Linked DNA regions of Homo sapiens. The protein of the gene in region 4 purifies or fractionates together with the protein of the main gene of each other region. This does not show direct contact. Each region holds a gene or a part of one and is shown on either strand. Other genes may lie near its edges.

The links. The genes of interacting proteins can lie anywhere in the genome.
Region 1: the proteins of MYO1D (region 4) and MAP3K3 purify together in Homo sapiens (tandem affinity purification; one large-scale study listed by IntAct). This does not show direct contact.
Region 2: the proteins of MYO1D (region 4) and RIPK2 purify together in Homo sapiens (tandem affinity purification; one large-scale study listed by IntAct). This does not show direct contact.
Region 3: the proteins of MYO1D (region 4) and FAXC purify together in Homo sapiens (co-immunoprecipitation; one large-scale study listed by IntAct). This does not show direct contact.

What each region holds. Positions count from the first base shown.
Region 1 is NC_000017.11:63,628,098-63,632,830, reverse strand, and holds part of MAP3K3 (mitogen-activated protein kinase kinase kinase 3), read right to left. Parts: intron 151-4,733; coding exon 29-150; intron 1-28. UniProt on the Homo sapiens protein: Component of a protein kinase signal transduction cascade. Mediates activation of the NF-kappa-B, AP1 and DDIT3 transcriptional regulators.
Region 2 is NC_000008.11:89,763,497-89,768,229, reverse strand, and holds part of RIPK2 (receptor-interacting serine/threonine-protein kinase 2), read right to left. Parts: intron 2,890-4,733; coding exon 2,734-2,889; intron 1,222-2,733; exon of another isoform or gene 1,121-1,221; intron 1-1,120.
Region 3 is NC_000006.12:99,318,261-99,322,993, forward strand, and holds part of FAXC (failed axon connections homolog), read right to left. Parts: intron 1-4,733. UniProt on the Homo sapiens protein: May play a role in axonal development.
Region 4 is NC_000017.11:32,491,533-32,496,868, forward strand, and holds the end of MYO1D (unconventional myosin-Id), read right to left. Parts: intron 4,760-5,336; exon of another isoform or gene 3,916-4,759; intron 3,384-3,915; coding exon 3,227-3,383; 3' UTR 990-3,226; downstream 1-989. UniProt on the Homo sapiens protein: Unconventional myosin that functions as actin-based motor protein with ATPase activity. Plays a role in endosomal protein trafficking, and especially in the transfer of cargo proteins from early to recycling endosomes.

The DNA of each region.
Region 1 (4,733 bases), about 31 Mb from region 4:
CACTTAGCTCTGCCAGGGTCACACACACCTGCCTATTTGAGTGACCTGTGTCTTTGTTCTTCATGGTCTCATATCCAGGCATCCGGTGACGTCGGTTCATCTGGAGGGCCACCAGATCGTTCATGATTGAGTTCAATGCCTCCTGTTCGTCTGCAATGAAAGAGAGCACATGGACTAAGACACTTAAATACAGACCAGCAAAGCTCTTTCACAAACTGTATAACTAATACTCAGGGAGTTCTGCCCAGGTAAAATGACAGACCCTGTAACTATAATCAGATGCAGCCCAAAAGGTCAGACTATGGCAATTTGAATTTTAATGGATTCTTTTTTTTCTTCGAGACAAGGTCTTGCTCTGTCACTCAGGCTGGAGTGCAGTGGCGTGATCATAGCTCACTGCAGCCTCCAACTCTGGGGCTCAAGTGACCTTCCCACATCAGCCTCCTGAGTAGCTGGGAACACAGGCATGCACCACCATGCCTGGATGATTTTTTTATTTTTTGTAGAGACGGGGTCTCCCCATGTTGCCCAGGCTGGTCTCCAACTCCTGGACTCCAGTGATCCTCCTGCCTCGGCCTCCCAAAGTGCTAAGATTACATACAGGTGTGGGCCACCATGCCTGGCCTTTAATGGTTTCTTAATAGCCCTCCAATCAGATTTCCTGCAGCAATATTTACCAATTCATTGCAGGGAAGGGACACGCTCAAACAGGGCAGTTGGTCCAGTGCCAGAGAAACTTAACCAGGAAAAATAGATGAAAAATTGAAGTGAAGAACACAGTACAATGTAATATGGTACTGAATGAAAAGATGAATCCATAGAGAGAGGATTATGGCACAGTGTCAGTCCCAGACTTATTCTTAAAGCATCATAAGGAGGAGAGCACACTTTAAAAGGTACCAAATAAGGGCCTCAGGTAACTGCTTTGAACAGAAGTTGTTTTACAAGCCTAGCATTTGAATGCCGCCACCACCAGCAACCCCCACAACTCTTTACAAGTTTATAGGCCTACTACTTCCCATGGGGAAGTCAAAGGGTAGTTCTATTGTTTTTCCTCCCTAAGCTGACCAAGCAATGCATTGTCTCCACCTTACTGGCATTACTTTTAATCCCCTTTTCTTGAAATAGCATGGAGTACTAGAGTTCTCATACATTGAAAACAACTGGCCAAAACCCAGAACACAAACCAGTCCAATTCCATGTTGTACAAATTTTTCCCAGGTCCTTTAAGAGATCTTTGCCCATTCAAATAGCATTTGGAGATTGAAAATGAATAAATCTGTTGATCGTGAAGGGAACATGAGGGATGAGTTGTTACACTTGCTTTGGTGACAACTGAGCCATTTGGGGACTTGGGGCACACCTTAAAAGAAGCAAATACAAAAGATTCCACCCAAAGAGAGTGCCTATCTTCTACCCTTTATCACTGTCCCTTGGAAATATTCTAATACCCTGTGGAAAGAAACGAACAGCATGAAATGTAGGAAGTAAAACTGCTCAAGTCTCTTCTCCCACTACTGATTAACTGATTGACTGACTGACTGAAACAGGGTTTCACTCTGTTGCCCAGGCTAGAGTGCAGTGGTGCAATCACAGCTCACTGCAGCCTCCTCCACCCCCAGGCTCAAACAATCCTCCACCTCAGCCTCCAGAGTAGCTGGGACTACAGGTGCACACCACCATGCCCTGCTAATTTTTGTATTTTTTATTGAGCGAGGGTTTCACCATGTTGCCCAGGCTGATTTCAAACACCTGAGCTCAAGCGATCCTCCCTCCTTAGCCTCCCAAAATGCTGGGATTACAGACATAAGCCACCGTGCCTGGCCCCTCACCTTATTTGCCTCTCCCCTCTTCCTAGACGAAATCTGCTCTGGTGCCCTATATGCCCTCTGACGAGGTACAGAAAAGGACAAAGTTGCCTATAAAGAGGTTTTTGCTTGTTCAGGAAAGTAAAATTAGATTTAAAACTTGCAGGAAAACCACCAGGAGCATAACTTCCCATATGATTCCACTTCAAAACATATACAAAAGTATGTATGAGAGTGACATAGCTGTAATATAGAAAGCATGCAGTAAAGGGGATAATGAATGAGGAGAAAGTGGGTATCTACAAAAAGACATCTGTCAAATTAACACATATATATCCCATCAATTATTTTATACCTTCTACAATTTCCCTATAGCTTCTTTAAAGAAGGGAACCTGGCTGGACAGGGTGGCTCATGCCTGTAATCCCAGCACTTTGGGAGGCTGAGGCAGGTGGATTGCTTGAGCCCAGGAGTTCGAGACCAGACTGGGCAACATGGCAAAACTACATTCTACAAAAAATACAAAAAATTAGCTGGGCATGGTGGTGCACGCTGTAGGCTCAGCTACTTGAGAGGCTTAGGTGGAAGGATCACTTGAGCCCAGGAGGTTGAGGCTGCAGTGAGCCATGATCATGCCACTGTACTTCAGCCTGGGCGACAGTGAGACCCTGTCCCAAAAACAAAAAGGGAACTTGGTTTTTTGTTTTGATTTTTATCCTCACAACCAAACTTTAAAAACTAGAGCATAACATCTAAGCTAGGAAGATTGGCTTATATATAATATGTATAGGTTTATATATTAAATGGCTTAGATATTATTAAATATATATAAAATTGGGCCAACTGTAATAATAAATTGGGATCAATACAAGGAGGATTATGACTAGGTTTAAGTGTTTTCTGAGGAGCATCCAACAATACTCCTAAAAGCGGAATGCAAGGAGTTATCAGTAACAACATTAACCACCCTAAGTATTGAGAATTTTCAGTTCTTTCAACTCAGATATTGAACAAAGATGGATGTGAATACACATACAGGCACACACATACACACACCACTTTTCAAGTCAGATCCACAAGTATGACTGAAGAAATCATTTCTAATTCTGTATAAGATGACGCTATTATAAGAGCTGGTTTATCAGGTTGACAAATTCTGTTTCCAGGAAGCTAACCAATTCCTGGCATTACTTAATGAACAAACTTGTTTAGTAGTTCCAGAGCTGAGAACACACTAGTGGAAAAGTTTGGCACTGTCATCTGAAATCTGGGACAACTGACACAAGTGAATCAGGGTTATAGAATCTAATTTTGTGTCAAAGTAAAATACATTCCTAGAGGTAGACAGGTTCTTCAACTGATACTTCAGAGGACATGTATAAAGACAGGAAGTAAATCAAGTGGCTCTTTTAGGCATTTCTTCCTGGATTGAGGTTTTGTTTTTGTTTTTTTTCCTTCTAAAAAGCAACATCACTATGCACACTTGGCTGCCACAAGCCAGTTATCTCTGTGGTATGGACTGAGACTAACTGAATTATCAGCACTCCTCCAATGTGGCATTCTTTAAAAACAAACAAAACTTTTAAAAACAAATAACAGGCTGGGCGCAGAGGCTCACGCCTGTAATTCTAGCACTTTGGGAGGCCAAGATGCGTGGATCACTTGAGGTCAGGAGTTCGAAACCAGCCTGGCCAACATGGTGAAACCCCGTCTCTACTAAAAATACAAAAAAATTAACTGCGCGTGGTGGTGTGCGCCTGTAATCCCAGCTACTTGGGAGGCTGAGGCAGGAGAATTGCCTGAACACAGGAGGCGGAGGTTGGTGTGAGCTGAGATAGCGCTACTGAACTCCAGCATGGCGACAGGGCGAGACTCCATCTCAAAAAAAAAAACAACAAATAACAACTTTCTTAGACTGAAGCAGTTAGGAATATGAACTTCAGAGTCAGAAAAATTTGGTAAGGAGGCCCTGAGCAAATCATTTATTCTCTCCAAACCTCAATTTCCTCATCTGTAAAATGGAGATAAAGCATCATTTCACAAAGCTGCTGTGGGAGTTAAAAGCAACAGAAAACCTACGAATTATTTCTTATGGTACCTAACACAGTAATGCTAAAAAAATGCTGGCTATTATTATCATCAATGAGAAAAGGTCAATGGAAAAAGACTGGAGGCCATTTAATCTACCCTAATACTTAATTTTATTACTGAACTTTTATAAATCATTAACAACAATTTACTGAATACTTATCTTGTATTACACATTAGAAAGTTTTAAAAGATATTTCAAGGTGTTCAAACTCTAGGGATAAAAAGATAAACAACACACAAATACAAAGTTGTATGAAAAAAAAGATAGAATTGGCAGGGCCCAGGGGCTCACGCCTGTAATCCCAGCACTTTGGGAGGCTAAGGCAGGTGGATCACCTGAGGTTAGGGGTTCGAGAACAGCCTGACCAACATGGAGAAACCCCGTCTCTACTAAAACTACAAAATTAGCTGGGCGTGGTGGCACATGCCTGTAATCCCATCTACACGGGAGGCTGAGGCAGGAGAACTGCTTCAAGCTGGGAGGCGGAGGTTGCGGTGAGCCAAGATGGTGCCATTGCACTCCAGCCTGGGCAACAAGAGCGAAACTCCGTCTCAAAAAAAAAAAAAAAGACAGAATTAGACAATATATAAACCAGAGTATATAAATACAAATGTATAAAAATAAATATTTTTAAATATGAGTAGCTTATATGGTTATATAAGAGGTTATATGGATGATTTTACATAATTGTTAACAGACTAAAGATTCTTTAAGAAAAGCAAGCTGGCTGGGCGTGGTGGCTCACACCTGTAATCTCAGCACTTTGGGAGGCCGAGGCAGGCAGATCACCTGAGGTCAGGAGTTCAAGACCAGCCTGGTCAACATGGTGAAAC
Region 2 (4,733 bases), on a different chromosome or scaffold from region 4:
GTACATTATTTTGTGTACTTTGTTGCTTAAGAAGAGGTGGCTTAAGCAACGATACGTGGCAAAAAGAACCTCCAAGGGTTTTTTGTTGACACTAAGCCCAATTTGAACTATGTGATATGACTACCCCTGGAAAGCTGATGAATTATTAAGGAACTATTAAGTATTTAGGGCCAAGGAAATGACACTTTCACTAAAGTCTGCATTCATCAAACCGCACCAAAAATAGTATTGTGTTCAGTTCTGACGATCAACATTTAAGTGAGATTTAAACAAAATGATGCATCTACATAGCACCAAGGATTAAAATCCATGTAATAAGAAAACGAGTTGAAGGAACTAAAGGGTATTTATCAGGGAGATGGATAAAATGCACTTGTACGTGAGGGTTTGGGAGACAGCTCATAGCTATCTTCAAATATTGAAAGGGCTGTCTTGCTGAAGTAACTAAATTGGATTTATTCTGTTTATCACAAAAAGTTGAACTAGGATCAATGTGTGGAAGCAACCAGGAAGGAATTTTGGTTGATCATTTAAGAAAATGTCACAATTATTCAATTAAGGATGTTAAGACTCCCTGTTACAGGATAACTGCTTTGGGAGACAGGGATTGTTGCAGTGAAGTATCAGAGAACTAGTTGACCATTAAGGTATTTCTACTTGATGGTTCTATAATTGATGGAATAGATTAGTCTCTTTTTTTCTTAGCAATACTGAGGCAGCAGCTTGCTTCTCTCTCCTTTCCCCTACCACTTTATTCTAAGGAGAGGAGTGTCTTCAATAAAAATTTTTCCCACTTATTTTCTCTCACATTTCTTGTTTTAATTTCCCTGTTGTTTCAACTTCTCTATTACTGATTTCTTTGAACATTTTTTATATTTATAATAATTTTCTGATTACATGTTATTAAAAGAAGTATAGCAAAATGATACATAAAAATATGGTGAGTTACATTTAGTATTAATTACTCAAAAACTACTTTTTATTTACACTCAGTTAGATATAGTATAGCTGTGAAATCACAATAGCCAGTGTCTTCAGCACTTAAGTCCTGCATCTTATTAAAAAATGAATTCAAGGTGGATCACAGATTACATATGTAACATAAAACTATAAAACTTACAGAAGATAACAAAAAAGGAAATCTTCAGTAAGTAGAACTTGGTGAAAAGTGCTTAGAGATGACAGCAAAAGCATGATCCATAGAAGAAAAAATATGGACTTCATCAAAATTAAAATTTTTGCTTTGTGAAAGTCCCTGTTAAAAGGATGAAAAGACAAACTATAACTGGGAGGAAATATTTGCAAACTACATATCTGATGAAGAACTACTACTGTAACAAATACAGAACTCTCAAAACTCAACAGTAAGAAAACCAAAGAATCCCTTTAGAAAATGAGCTTAAGACATGAGAGACATTTCACTGAAAACCACGTATGGGTGGCAAATTAGCATATAAAAAGGTGTTCGATATCATTAGCAGTTAGGAAAATGCAAATTAATACCAAGATGAGATATCACTACACATCTATTAGAACAGCTAAACAGAAAACAGTGATAATACCAAATGCTGGTGGGCATTTGGTATTATCATTTTGCTTTGTGAAAGTCCCTGTTAAAAGGATGAAAAGATAAACTATAACTGGGAGGAAATATTTGCAAACTACATATCTGATGAAGAACTACTACTGTAACATATACAGAATTCTCAAAACTCAACAGTAAGAAAACCAAAGAATCCCTTTAGAAAATGATGCGGAATAGCTGGATCTCTCACACATTGCTGGTGGAATGTAAAATGGTACAGCCACTCTGGAAAATAGTTGGATACTTTCTTTAAAAACTAAACACACCCTTACCATATGACCCAGCATTTGCATTCTTGGGCATTTATCACAGAGTAATGAAGACTTATGTTCACTCATAAACCTGTACAGCTTTGTTCACAGCAGCTTTGTAAATAATTACCCCAAAATGGAAAGAACCAAAATGTTCCTGAATGGTTAACTTTGGTACATTTATACTGTGGAATACTACTTATCAATAAAAAACAACTATTGTTACAAGCACAACTTAGACGGATCACAAGAGCATTATGTGACGTGAACAAAGCCAATCTCAAAATATCACATACTATATGATTCCACTTATATAGCATTTTCAAAATGACAAAATTAAAGAGATGGAAAGCAGATTAGTGGTTGTTAGGGGTACAGATTGTGGTAGGGAGGAAGTGGGTGAGGTAGGATGAGTGTTATCTTTGTGGTGATGTTATGAGTAGTGCTGTACCTTGATTGTTGCGGTTACTATGAACACACATTGTACTAATGTCAAATTCCTGGTCTTGAAATTATACTATAATTATGTGTGATATAACAATGTGGGAAACCAGGTGAAGGATACATGAAACCTCTTTATTACCTTTGCAACTTCCTATAAATATATAATAATTTTAAAATAAAAAGTAAAAAAAAAAGGTGATCTTGACAATTCAATTAAGAAACATAATGGCTTTGTATTTTGTACCATAATTCTATCTCTGTCTAGGAATAACTTCCTAACTGCAGTAGGAAGAAGGAGAATAGAAGATAGAAATTAGGGGCTATGGAAATTACTATTCATTAGTCTCTATCTCTAAGGAGAGACATGAAATTGGCTAGGTCGAAGAAATAACTAAAAAGTATTTTTAAAACTATAAGGACAAGGAAACATAAACTTTTTAAAAAAGTAATTACCTTAACATGAAATTCATTGTCCAATAAGATATTCTGAGTCTTCAAGTCATGATGAAGTAAAGGAGGAGTCATATTGTGCAGGTAATTTACACCAAGGGCAATTTCATGCAGGATGCGAAATCTCAATGGCCAAGCAACATCAGGATATTCAGTTTTCTTCATATATATGTGAAAAGAAAGAAAATGAAATTAGTCCAAATTTCACTATGTTTCACACTTAGAAAGTTAAATATTCCATGAGGAAATACAGTATAAACTAAGGTTAAAACATATGCTCATTTTTATAAAATAGCACCAATTTGATAGGGTTTAACATTTTTGTGTCTTACTTTCCTCACTTTATAGAGAAAATTATGATAACTTTATGGCACCAATACTTCCTTTTAGTTTATATTGGTCATGCAACTACATGGTTTTGGGTCTTTCTTCAGCTGACACAAATCTCAATTACTTTGTATCTGTATATAGCCAGAGTCATATACTTACACCCACATCCACCTCCTCATTCTATGTCTTAATCAGGTAATTTGAGTACACACAAATACACACAAAATTACAGACAGTTTTTTTCTAGTAAATACCAAGGCATTCATTCAAAATTTGTATTTTAATTTTTCTATTACTATAAAATCATACATTATAATCACTGCATCAGTTACAAATTATGATCATATTGTATTTATTGACTAAGCATTAATTTATCATACATTTAATCATATAATTAATTTATCTGCATTCCAGCTTATAAAATTAGCCTTTTGTTTTGTTTTTGTGGAAGGGACACTCATTTTTGTTTCTAAAACTGTATAGAACAGACACATTTAAAACATAACATTTTATTTTTCATAGTACTCAAATAATATCCATCTGAGTTTTCTTAAAATAAATGTTTTCTGAACATAAAAGTTAATGTGGCTTCCCAGGAGAATGAACATACTTTGGAAGATCAGGCAATTTGGGAAGATCCACGATGAATCACCAGGCACCATACCACATTTTTCTAAATGCTATGAAAAAGACTGCTTCTACTGAAAGTACAAAACTGTTCTTGAGAAGTTTTTCTGCAAATGCGTCAGCTTATAGTTCAGTGATCAATCTGGCAGGGGGAGTGGTTCAAAATATTTTAGACTGTTTATGATACATCTTGAGTTTTCTCAATGAATTTTGTGAGGTTGGGGGAGGGCACTTCAAGATAAATCCCACCCTAAATAATGCAATACAGGAAACCAAAAGAAACACAAAAAGCTGACGTGGAACATTACTTTCTCTGGCATACACAGAGGCCTGTCCCCTAGAGAAACTTAATCTTTTAATCTGTAAAAAAGGTAACTTTTTCTGAAAATTATGCAGTTTAAAGCAGTTACCAGGCCTCTCTGCAGCATAATATAATATGGGGGCTTGTGATCATGGAGACAAGGGAGAGAAGTGCTCACTGTATATTTTATGATTTTTTTTCCAGGAGTTAGCAATCCCCCTTGAGGAGGCTGTAGAATTTCCAGCGAGCTGCAAATTTGGGTGCCAGAGTATCTGCTGGGGTGTGGGAAGAAAATGTTAGATTTCTACTTATACTCATTTCTCAACAAAAATAAAAGAGAAATTGTGATTTATTAATATTTGTATCTTGGCTCTGTGGTAGTTATACAAATCTTACAGACTGACACCAGTTACTTATTCCATCCTTGTTTCAAATGGTCACAAGTCATGAATAGAATGTGATGTATTCTGAAACTGAGAGGAAGTTACTCTATGACTGACTGACAGTGGCACCCACTTTCCCTTGGCCACTTACAGGGCATTGTGTTACACTATCATTTATGAGTATCTATTGATTGGATTTTGTAGATTAATACAGTTTTAATTAAGCCAACCCTCAAAAAATGGACCAAGTAGTTTAAAAAGATCTACTGAAACTACAGACTCATGATAATATTAATAATGAATACATGTATTTTGAGAATGAGGACCCCTGAATTTGTTTACTCAAGGGATTCATAATCAAA
Region 3 (4,733 bases), on a different chromosome or scaffold from region 4:
ACACACACACACACACACACACACACACACACACACACACACACACAAAATAGAAGAAATGGAAAATATATATGTACAAATATGTATATATAGATGATTCAAAATTATGCATAAAAATATTGGAAACATATGCACCAAAATGGTAACAGTTGTTAGCAATGGGTTAGAAGATTACAGCAACAAGAAGTGAGAGAGGGATGGGAAAATATATTTTTTAAAAATTGCAGTGACTTATTTTCCTTCCTTATGCTTTTCTGAGCCTTCCCAAATTTCTACAATAAATTCTAAAATCAGAAAAATGATTTTTGTTATAAAGACATTTTTCCCAGAAAACAATGTTTCCAATGAAGTTGTGTTACATACAAAATCAGTGACAGTGATTATGAGAATAACTATTTATTTAGCACTTCCTATGGGTCAGGCCCTGCAGTAAGTACTTTACAGAAAGCATTTCATTTAGTCCCCACCCACTGTGATGTAGGTATTGTTCTGAACCTCATTTTGCAAATGAACAACTCAAGTTATTTGTGTGAAATCAAAGAGCTGGTAAGCGGTGATGCCCCAGATGTGAACCCGGGATCTGACTCCAGGATTCCCACACCCATATGCCAGCCACTAGGCTTCCTGCCTCTAGCCACGCTGGTTCCCAAAAACCTCACCTCTCTGTTTTTGATTTTCATGTCTTCTTTGCTCTTTATTGACTCTCATTCTTTTTTGGGAGTGTTCAGAAATAAACAGTGTATGTATTTCTGGCATGTGGAGGCATCAGGCAACCATTACACATAGTTATCTGCTATGAACACACACACCTTCCCCAAGGGGGACATAAGAACATGAGGATTAAAAAGCAAACCCGGCCGGGCGCGGTGGCTCACGCCTGTAATCCCAGCACTTTGGGAGGCCGAGGCAGGCGGATCACGAGGTCGAGAGATCGAGACCATCCTGGCTAACACGGTGAAACCCCGTCTCTACTAAAAATACAAAAAAAATTAGCCAGACATGGTGGCGGGCGCCTGTAGTCCCAGCTACTTACGAGGGTGAGACAGGAGAATGGCGTGATCCCGCGAAGCGGAGCTTGCAGTGAGCCGAGATTGCACCACTGCACTCTAGCCTGGGCGACAGAGCGAGACTCCGTCTCAAAAAAAAAAAAAAAAAAAAAAAAGCAAACCCTCCAACTGTCAGCTCTCACAGCACCACAAACCTCTCCTTCCAGATGCTGGTCACGCCTGCCCTCCACATTTGCCTGCTGTTTGATTACTTCTACATGCCGACCACTTTTCAGAGCACTTTGCATGCATTACTTTTCTTCTCACCATTACTGTTCCTACTTTACACAAGGAAATTCAGGCCCAGAGAAGTCAAGAGGCTTGCCCAAGGCCTTAGAGCTGGGGTTTGAGTTCTGGAGTTATCATTCTCAAGTCAATGAAGAACGAAGGTACACCTCTCCATTTTCTAAAAAAATGTTTCTCCTATTAGGATTGCTTCATTTTATTTCTGTAGGTCCTGAATATTTCGTATAAATCATACTCCTAATATTTTTAAATTATATTTTCCAACTGGTTATTTGAGATACTCAAGAAAACTTGTTTACATGTTAGCTTTGTATCCTTCGTAAACTTACTGAATTCTCTCATTAACTGTAATAATTTTAGTTGATTCTCCATTATATCAGCTACATAATCTCCTAATTTCTATAAATACTAATTTTGTCTCCTCCTTTCCAATACAAAGATATATTTCTTTCATGTTGTACAACTACATTGTCAGAACCCTCCCAAAACTACATTAAATAATAGCAAGAGCAGGCATCTTTGTTTGGTATTTTATTTAACTGGGGATGCTCCTAGTGACTCAACACTAAGTATGACACCAGTTGTTGGCTTAATATAATACCCTTCCATCGGGTTCAGGAACTAGTCTTTGAGTCCTATTTTACTAAGAGTGTTTATCAGGAATGAATACTAAACTTCATCATCAAATGTCTTCCCAGTACTGAGATAATTATGACTGTCCTCCTAGCAATTCATGATAAATATTATTAATGTATTTTATATCATAAAATCATATTTTCTATTCTAACTCTACCTGATTTGACTGCAGAGTATTTTTCAGATATGAAAATAAAAATTAGCTCATTTTGTTTAACTGTTTTATGTAGTTTGAATTTCATTTATTTTAGTTTGAATTAAGTTACAATTTTTAAAACTATATCCATAGCTATTCACTATGCCTGTCTCCTGTCTCTCTTTACCACCTCCCACCAGGCCTAATTCATCCCCCACAACATCAACAGAGCCGCTTTTCTAGATCACACATGCGGCTCCTTCTCTCTTATTCTCAGCAATCTGCAACATCACCATGTTTCTGTATTATAAAGTATACATCTTTTAGCATGATAATTACTGTCCTTTATAAGATGGCCCCAAACTATCTTTTAATCTTCATTTCAACCATGATTCCCAAATGCCACTCACTTGGGATTCTTTTTCTCATGATTTTCCCAAAAAGTCCTTATTTTCTTCACTGGGACAACTCTTTTCTTTCTTGGGCCAACACACTGCCGCCTCATCTACGGCCCTCCCCAGTCCCCCCTGCTATTTCATCCCAGAGCACCAAGTACACGTCTCTGTCGTGGGACTTGCCCCAGCCTGACTTGTGCAGATCCTCATTTGGAGCAGAGGTCCGCAAACTTCTGTGAAGAGTCAGATGGTGAATATTTCAGGCTCTCCAGGCCTCATGGGCACATTTCTGTTGCATTTTTTCCCTACACTTTAATAAAGTAAAAACCATTATTAGCTCACAGGCTATATGAAAACAGGCCACCAGGGATCAGCAGTACTTTGCCTCTCCTGGTTTACAGCCTCATCACCCCCTGGACTATAAGCTAGTTGAGAGAGGGGAAAATCTCTAACCCATCTTCATATTCCTCAGCTCCTGGCACTTGGGAAATGTTCAAATCACTGAAGTTGATTGACCAGGAACATTGATAACTAATGTATCCTGATGAGTCAGATATACAACCATGGACAATTATTTCCCCAAATCTTGAGCTATTTCAACAAAAAGTAATTTTGGATTTTGAGTCTCTTAGGCATCTGGGCATCAAAAATGAGCCACATCCGTGGGGATGGCAGGGAGGTAGTTTGAATTTCACTTATTCAATAAATGAAATGAGGCTTTTTGCCTCATTTAGTAAGACAAATTATGATATTCAGCCAAAGAGCCTCTCCCTCCCCAAATATAGAAAAAGTGCTTCTCTTATCACAGAGTTCACAACTACACTGCTCCCTGGGCCTCACAGAATATAACGCCAGCTAACTCCAACTTTTCAACTAGCCTGCTCAGCTTCTCATCCCAGAAAATCCAGACTTTTAATGCTGTTTTGAATACTTATCATGTATCCAGCCTAGCTATCAGTGATTCCTTTTTCTTCTATCTCCTGAAAACTGGGGAGAAAGCATTGTCTAAATCGCTAAACGCGAGAGAAACAATTGTCAGTTACCATTATTATTGCTATCACCCTGCTCTCTGATTTTCCCAACCAGAAATGTCCCGAAAGGTGAAGGTCGCCCCTCTCTGGTTAAAAAAGCAACACTGTTAAAGATGTGTGGTGCTTATAGCATAATTTCTGTCATAATTCCAGGGGCTCAATTCCTTGCTTACTGAGGCTCACAACAGCATGAGCCGGTGAGGAAGGGGAAGAAGCCAGGAACAGACATAGCCATTGTTAAGGAGAAATGGCCCAGTTGTGAGCCTGGTTTCTGAGGCCAAGAGTCCAGCATTAAGTTTCCAAAGGAATGAGGCAAACTTGAGGTTAATTCCATTCACATCTACATCAAGCAGGTCTACCTGGTCCCAGTGGAGCAAAACAACAGAAGGCCTAGACAATGTCAATTCTGCAGGCCAGACAGAGCTTTTGAAGGAGTCCAGCCAGTATCAAGCCCCCACCCCCAGAACATAACTCCCGTAATGAAGCTAGCCAAGAGCTGGATGTGGTACTGGGATCTGCCCTCTGCAAGCTGGGGTTCAAGGAAGGACCTCAGGTCTAGCAACTGTCTGAAATGTAGAGCAGAAAGATGCAGTCAGAGTGGGTCACTCTGCAAGGGACAGGTTATATCCAGAACGGCCTCTACCCAGCATGGCTTCCAGTTCCTAAGGCACGAGGTGGTCTTCAACAAAACAAATTCTAAACTCTACTTCCTAGCAGAGGTGAGGTACTTAATGTGCTCTAGAATGAGGATGAGGGTGAATCTGGAAATTACTGCAGATGAGGGAGAGCCAGTGAAAACCCACCTTCTGCAGAAAAAACTAGTAGCCCTCAAAAGGACCTGGTCAGATGACCTAGTCACATGGAGGACTTGGCTCCCTGTACATTAGCTATCCCCCAGGAGAAGCCATTATTTCACACATAGAAGGTCCTGAATTCAATATCTGTTTATGAATTGTCATCGCTATGAATCAAGCTCTGCCCAGTAAAGAACCACATCAGCCCAGGCCCCCTCAACCGGTCAGGGGAGCAAGAGTACATCATTCTATTCCCAGCCATCCTCACCAGCCCGCGGGTACACACTGCTCTCTGTGCTTCTCTTTTAGTGGTTTCCCAAACAAAATTATATCATTGTGTGTGACAAATACAAAATCACACTACTAAATGTGCTAGTAATAAGAGGACTAAGAATATGACCAGGAATAAGAGGGGTGAGAAAATGACAAATGTTCCACATATACAGGGA
Region 4 (5,336 bases):
TCTGGCCGGGTGGGTCCTGCAGGGGCTCTGGACCCTAGACTCCCTGTGTCGAGGTGTGACTCTGAAGCTGCTGCTCCCACGTATTCTTGGGCTTGGCTCTGCTCTGTGCTCCCTTCCCCCGGGGTCTCCCAGGCCAGCAGGGGTGGGCTGGCGTCCACATGGGCCAACCCTGCAGGTTTAGCTCCATGCGGGTTTCCAGGAGGGAGAAATCCAGCCCTGTGGCTCCCAGGGAAGCAGCCACTCCAGCCCATAATTGCGGCAAGGGTGGGGTTCCTACCAGCTCTATCTGTACCTGTCCTGACTGCCAGCCTGAGGCCTGCACGTGCCACCAGCGTCAGCCTCAGGAAGAGGGTTATGGGGATGCTGGATGTGGCCCTCCCCAGGCCCTGCACCCTGCGGTCTGAAGCTGCTCCTGAGTACTAGGAAAGTCTTTCTTGTCCTCAAGTTGTAGCTTGGGAGCTGTCAGCCTTGTGATCAAGGCCACTTGCTTTCCACAAAGCAACTGCCTTCGTCTGAGTTACAGAAGCCACCGCTGCGTGTTCTTTTCTGCCAATGACCAGTGACCGGAAGCACCCTGGCTGCAGGACCCTTGGGTGCTGGCCATGCCCTGTTGCTCCCTCAGGGCCTTGCTCCCTTCCCCAGGAGGAGCTGCTGCTTCCTCTCACTCTCCCTGCCGCCCCCACACTTCCTCCCAGCACCTTTCACTCCGCTGGCCTGGCCTGTCCCCAGTCTGCTGCTGTAGGTCTCTGAGCCTTTCCTTTCTACATACGTGCTTCTATTGCAGTAAACATATTCCCTGGCACTAAGCAGTGTGCTTCCAGCTGCCAGCGCACAGGCCTCAAGATGGCAGGAGAAAGTGCTGGGACTCAACCCCACGGCCTCCTTCCCTCCTCACACCTCCGGTCCACAGCTTGCTTCTTGCTCACTTTTTGTTCAAAAGCCTCAGGCAAATCATCCTCCATTTTACATGATTTGTGCTTAATTCTCCCTTCTATCCTCCCAGATAATGGTTGACTTTATTTAAGCAAAAATTTCACCAAGTTTTCAGTGACAGATAAGCAGAACACCTTTAAAAATAAGATTTAATGCTTTATTGCTCTTGATGGCAAATCAAAATATGCTTTAGAAATAAAGTTAATTTACTGGAAAATAGGAGTTTTTGCACCAAACCATAAAATTGCATTTCATTACATCAAGAGAACCCCCTCATTGTCTACAATCATGCCCGCTTCCTTTCCCCTCAGCGCCCGGGACACGTGACCGAGATCATACCCTAAATTCCTGATCCTTTTGCAGTTGCCACATACTGTGGCTTTTAGTACATCATAAAAAAGTGCTTGTCCTGTGGCCTCAGCTGGGAGGCCCTGGCGCTGGGGCTAAGGGGCCCAAGGCACCATCCAAAGGCTGGGAGGAAAGAACCCAAACCCAGGCCCTCCTCCTGCCCTCCAGCCTTTGACAGGCAACTCATTTGGCATGATCTGTTTTGGTGTGTTTAAAACATACATTTGCATGTGTCTAGTGTAAAGCAACAAGTTTGAGGAAATAAGTGGAAGGAGAGAGGAAGTTCCAGTTAGATGGTTCCACTAGTGTCTACTGGTAATTGGCAAAACTATGAGTGTTGCTAATCTGGGCTGAGGGCACCTCTGCCTGTGCAGGCAGCTGACCAGGCTTGGAGAATGAGAAAGGGTTCCCAAGGACAGGATGCCAGCGGGATTCTTTGTTGCAAACTGCACACAGTGCAATTTTTGGGAAGCAGGGATGGGGAGTGGGCATGAGACCGGGTTGTTGGGACCACTCTGGGGTCAGGCCCTGGGTGAGGCACAGGAGGCTGCACACAGGCACTTGGTGGGTTCTGCCGGGTCAGGGTGGGAAGGCAGGAGAAGTGTCTGTGGCAGGACGGGAAGAAGCTTCAGTACATCCCTCTCTTGCACCTCTGCCCACTCCACCTGAGGCGTTGGCTCCCTCCCCCTCATCCTCTCACCACATGCCTGAGGCGTAGGCTCCCCTCATCCTCTCACCGCATGGGGCATTTGCTCCCAGCCTCTACTTCCCTCAAGGCCTTCTCAGCAGCTGGGGCTCAGTGGGGAAGGTGGTCTCAGAAGGCCCCTGAAGCATACGTGCTTTTGCTGGGCAGAAACTGGCAAGCTGGCAGTGCTCCCTGGCACCAGTTTCACGGGCGCAGGCCCCAAGGGGCCGTGTAGAGGGCGGGGTGGGCATCCTGGCCTGGCCTGCAGTGCCAGGACCCCACGCTGTGCTGCTGCCCCGCTTCCTGCTTCCCGTCATCCCGTGTCTTGACCCCGCCCTTGCTGTTTCTCTGAGTAGGAAACGCAGCGGGAGGTGGTCCAGAGGGAAAGCGGCCGACCCTGAGGGCTGCCCTCACCCTGGCAGCTCCCCGTTCTCATTAGGGTTCCTGACCCAAGTGTGGTGACAGCAGGTATCTGATTAGCAACCCTGCAAACGGTGAAAGTATCTATAAGAGGACCACAGCCACAGGCTGCGAGTTAAGTAAGATGATCCTTGGAGCATGCCACACTGTCCTCTCCAGAGCGGTGGTCAGAGGCCCTGGTGGGGGCCTTGGTGGCAAAGGGAGTCTCCCAGGGGAGAACCTGGGAAGGATGGACTCACTCTGCTGGATGGGCTGTTCCGCTCCTGCCACTGGCTCCTGGCTGAGGGGCTGGCCCTGTGGGTGACTCTGCTCACCCAGTGGCTTTGGCTGGCGGCTGGGAGTTGGGTTGGGGTGGGTCCGCCGAACTCTGAGCAGAGCCTCCCTGAGCTGGGTCCCCAGGGCTGGCTCACCTTGGGCAAGAGAGGTGGCTATGGGGCTCCCGCAGAGTGGGGTCCTGCATCCCCACCCCTTCCCTCTGCAGGGTCAGCAGCAGGGAGGACACCTGTCCAGGTGCTCTGACTTGACCTGGCCACGGGGCATCCGCACCAACTAAAGGCACCATCCAGTTGCCTCTGGGGTGAGATTGGTCTGGACGTCAGCCCAGGGGTCTGGGCGGGGCACCAGGGTCTTTGGCTTATTGAACAGGGACCGTGGACAGTAAGGACAGAGGAAGATGATACCAAAGGCAGAAAACCAGGAAGGAAATCTTACAGGGGCGGGGCTCCTCTGGGAGGGGCCCTCGCAGCAGGTTTCTAGCGGGCATGGGTTGGGAGGCAGCAGCTGGACTGGGACCCAGGACTCGGAGTGTGGCCGGGCTCCGGGCCAGGCCTCCGCGGGGCGTCAGTTCCCGGGCACGCTGAGGATGAAGCCCGAGCGATTCTTGGTGAAGTCGGGCTGGGGCTGGTTGAGCCGCGTCTCCACGGAGACGGTGCACTTCTTCCCGTGCAGGCTGCACTGTACTGGGTTGGTGACGTTCACTTGAAGGTGGCGCTTCTCACTGCAGGAACCAAAAACACCAGACGGGCAGTTAGCAGGCAGCATGAGAACAGGGCACCTGCCCGGCAGCTCCCGGCCACCATTGGCTCCGGCGCAGCCTGCTTCCTCCACAAGTGCCAGGAGGATGCCTGAAGGGCCCCAGAGAGGCCGAGGCAAGGCGAGTGTGGCACTAGCTGGGCCTCCAACCACAGCCTCGGCACCATGGCAGGGCCCTTGGCTCCCATGCCAGCGCATGGGACTGGACAGTGGAGGGCCATGTGGTTGAACAGACGCCACCAGGTCTCTGGCTGGGGCTGAGGACCAAGCCCCTGGGTCCTTCGGTGTACCAGGGCTGGGGTTCTGACTCTGACACTAATCCATCCTGCGGGAGACCCGTGCCACATGCCCCAGTGAGAGAGAGAGAGAGAGATGTCTCCTGCTCCTGGCTGGTCCCTGCCTGTCACACCCCGGCTGGTGGAAGTGGGCCTGACTTGGGTTTCCCCAAGCGAGAGGCTGCTCTCATCTGGAGCTGGGCCGCTTGGCTGGTTGCCACCCTGGAGGCTGCAGAACAGTGCAGCCGGTGCCCCACCGGGGGCTGCAGGGAACCCTGTGCAGCAGGAAGCCCCGCTGGCCTGGGAGCACATGAAGGCGGCTTCAGCCGGGCGTCCGGCCGGGCTCCAGGTCGGGTGCAGAGGCGGAAGCTGTGCTCTTCCTGCTGGACAGAGCCCGAGCCCGAGCCCTTCCTCCAGCTCCTCACACGACGCTGAACATGCTAAGAAGCTGCTGCTGGTTTTAAAAGCAGAGACACTTGTCGCGATAGGCTGGCACCCCAATGTTTGCTCACACAGGCAGCACAATCCCACGCTGTACCTCAGCTTGTGCCTTGTCAGCTCTGAGCTGGGAGGGGAGAGGAGAAAGGAGGAAGCCTCCTGACCTCGGAGCCTCCAGTCAGGACTGGCTGGCTCTGCTCCGTATGCCGAAAGCCCTGGGAATTTTTCACTGCTCTCGGGATGGCGTCTGGGGCGTGGGCAGGTTGGTCCCGCTTTGAACGCTCTGCTGGACTTACGGAGCTGCTCTTAGTGCTGGGCAGTGAACGCCAAGCTGTCGTGTCCACACGGCCAGGGGAACGCCAGGGCCAAGGCCAGCATGCGCTGAGCTTCTGCCCAGCCTGGAGTCGCCTTCACCAGGCCATGAGCACGTGAGGCACTTTCTAAGCACTGGTTGCCCGGGAGGCGCAACTGCTCAGACGCCGAGGCAGCTCAAAGGGCTCCGACGTGCGGTGGCTCCACGGGGTCAGCGTGCCCAGAGTAATGGGTGTCACTAGAGCACCTGGCCCAGCACACGCTTTCTGAGGACACCTGGTGGGCGCGCCCCACAGCAGGCCCCAAAGTTTCAGAGGTAAGTGCGGGGTGCTCAGGGGCTCTCCTCATGGCTGTCTCCCCCCTGCTTTCTCACGGACACAGGAAGAGACCCCGGTTGTCACTTGTGGGCATTACGTATCTAATACTTAATGTCTTGTCAGCTGCAGCTAAAACCTGAGCTTAGACAGCTATTTTTAACCAGACTTGGACATAAAAATAGCAGAGCCCAGCAGAGGCCGTGACTCAGGCCCTCTTCTACTCTTGTGGGCACCAGGGCCGCTCTGCAGGGCTCATGTGCAGCCCTTGGCGGCGGGGTCCAGGTGGGGCCCCTGCAGCCCTCGTGCTGGACCAGATGCCTCCAGGACCAGGCTGGTCCCTGAGCTGGGGTGGCCTCCCTGCCTCCCCTCTGTCAACCTGGTATGGCGTTGGGTCCCTCTCACTGGACTCTTGTCCTCTGGGAGCCTCCCTCCTGACCCTGGCAGCGGCCTCCCCCTGCTCGCCCTCCTGGAGGGCCTGTGCCCTTCCCTGTGCAGGGAGTCCAGACTCTGCCCTCGCCCTTCCCTGGGGAACTGCATGTACACAGTGGGTTCCAGAATCACCTGGTGACTCAGTCT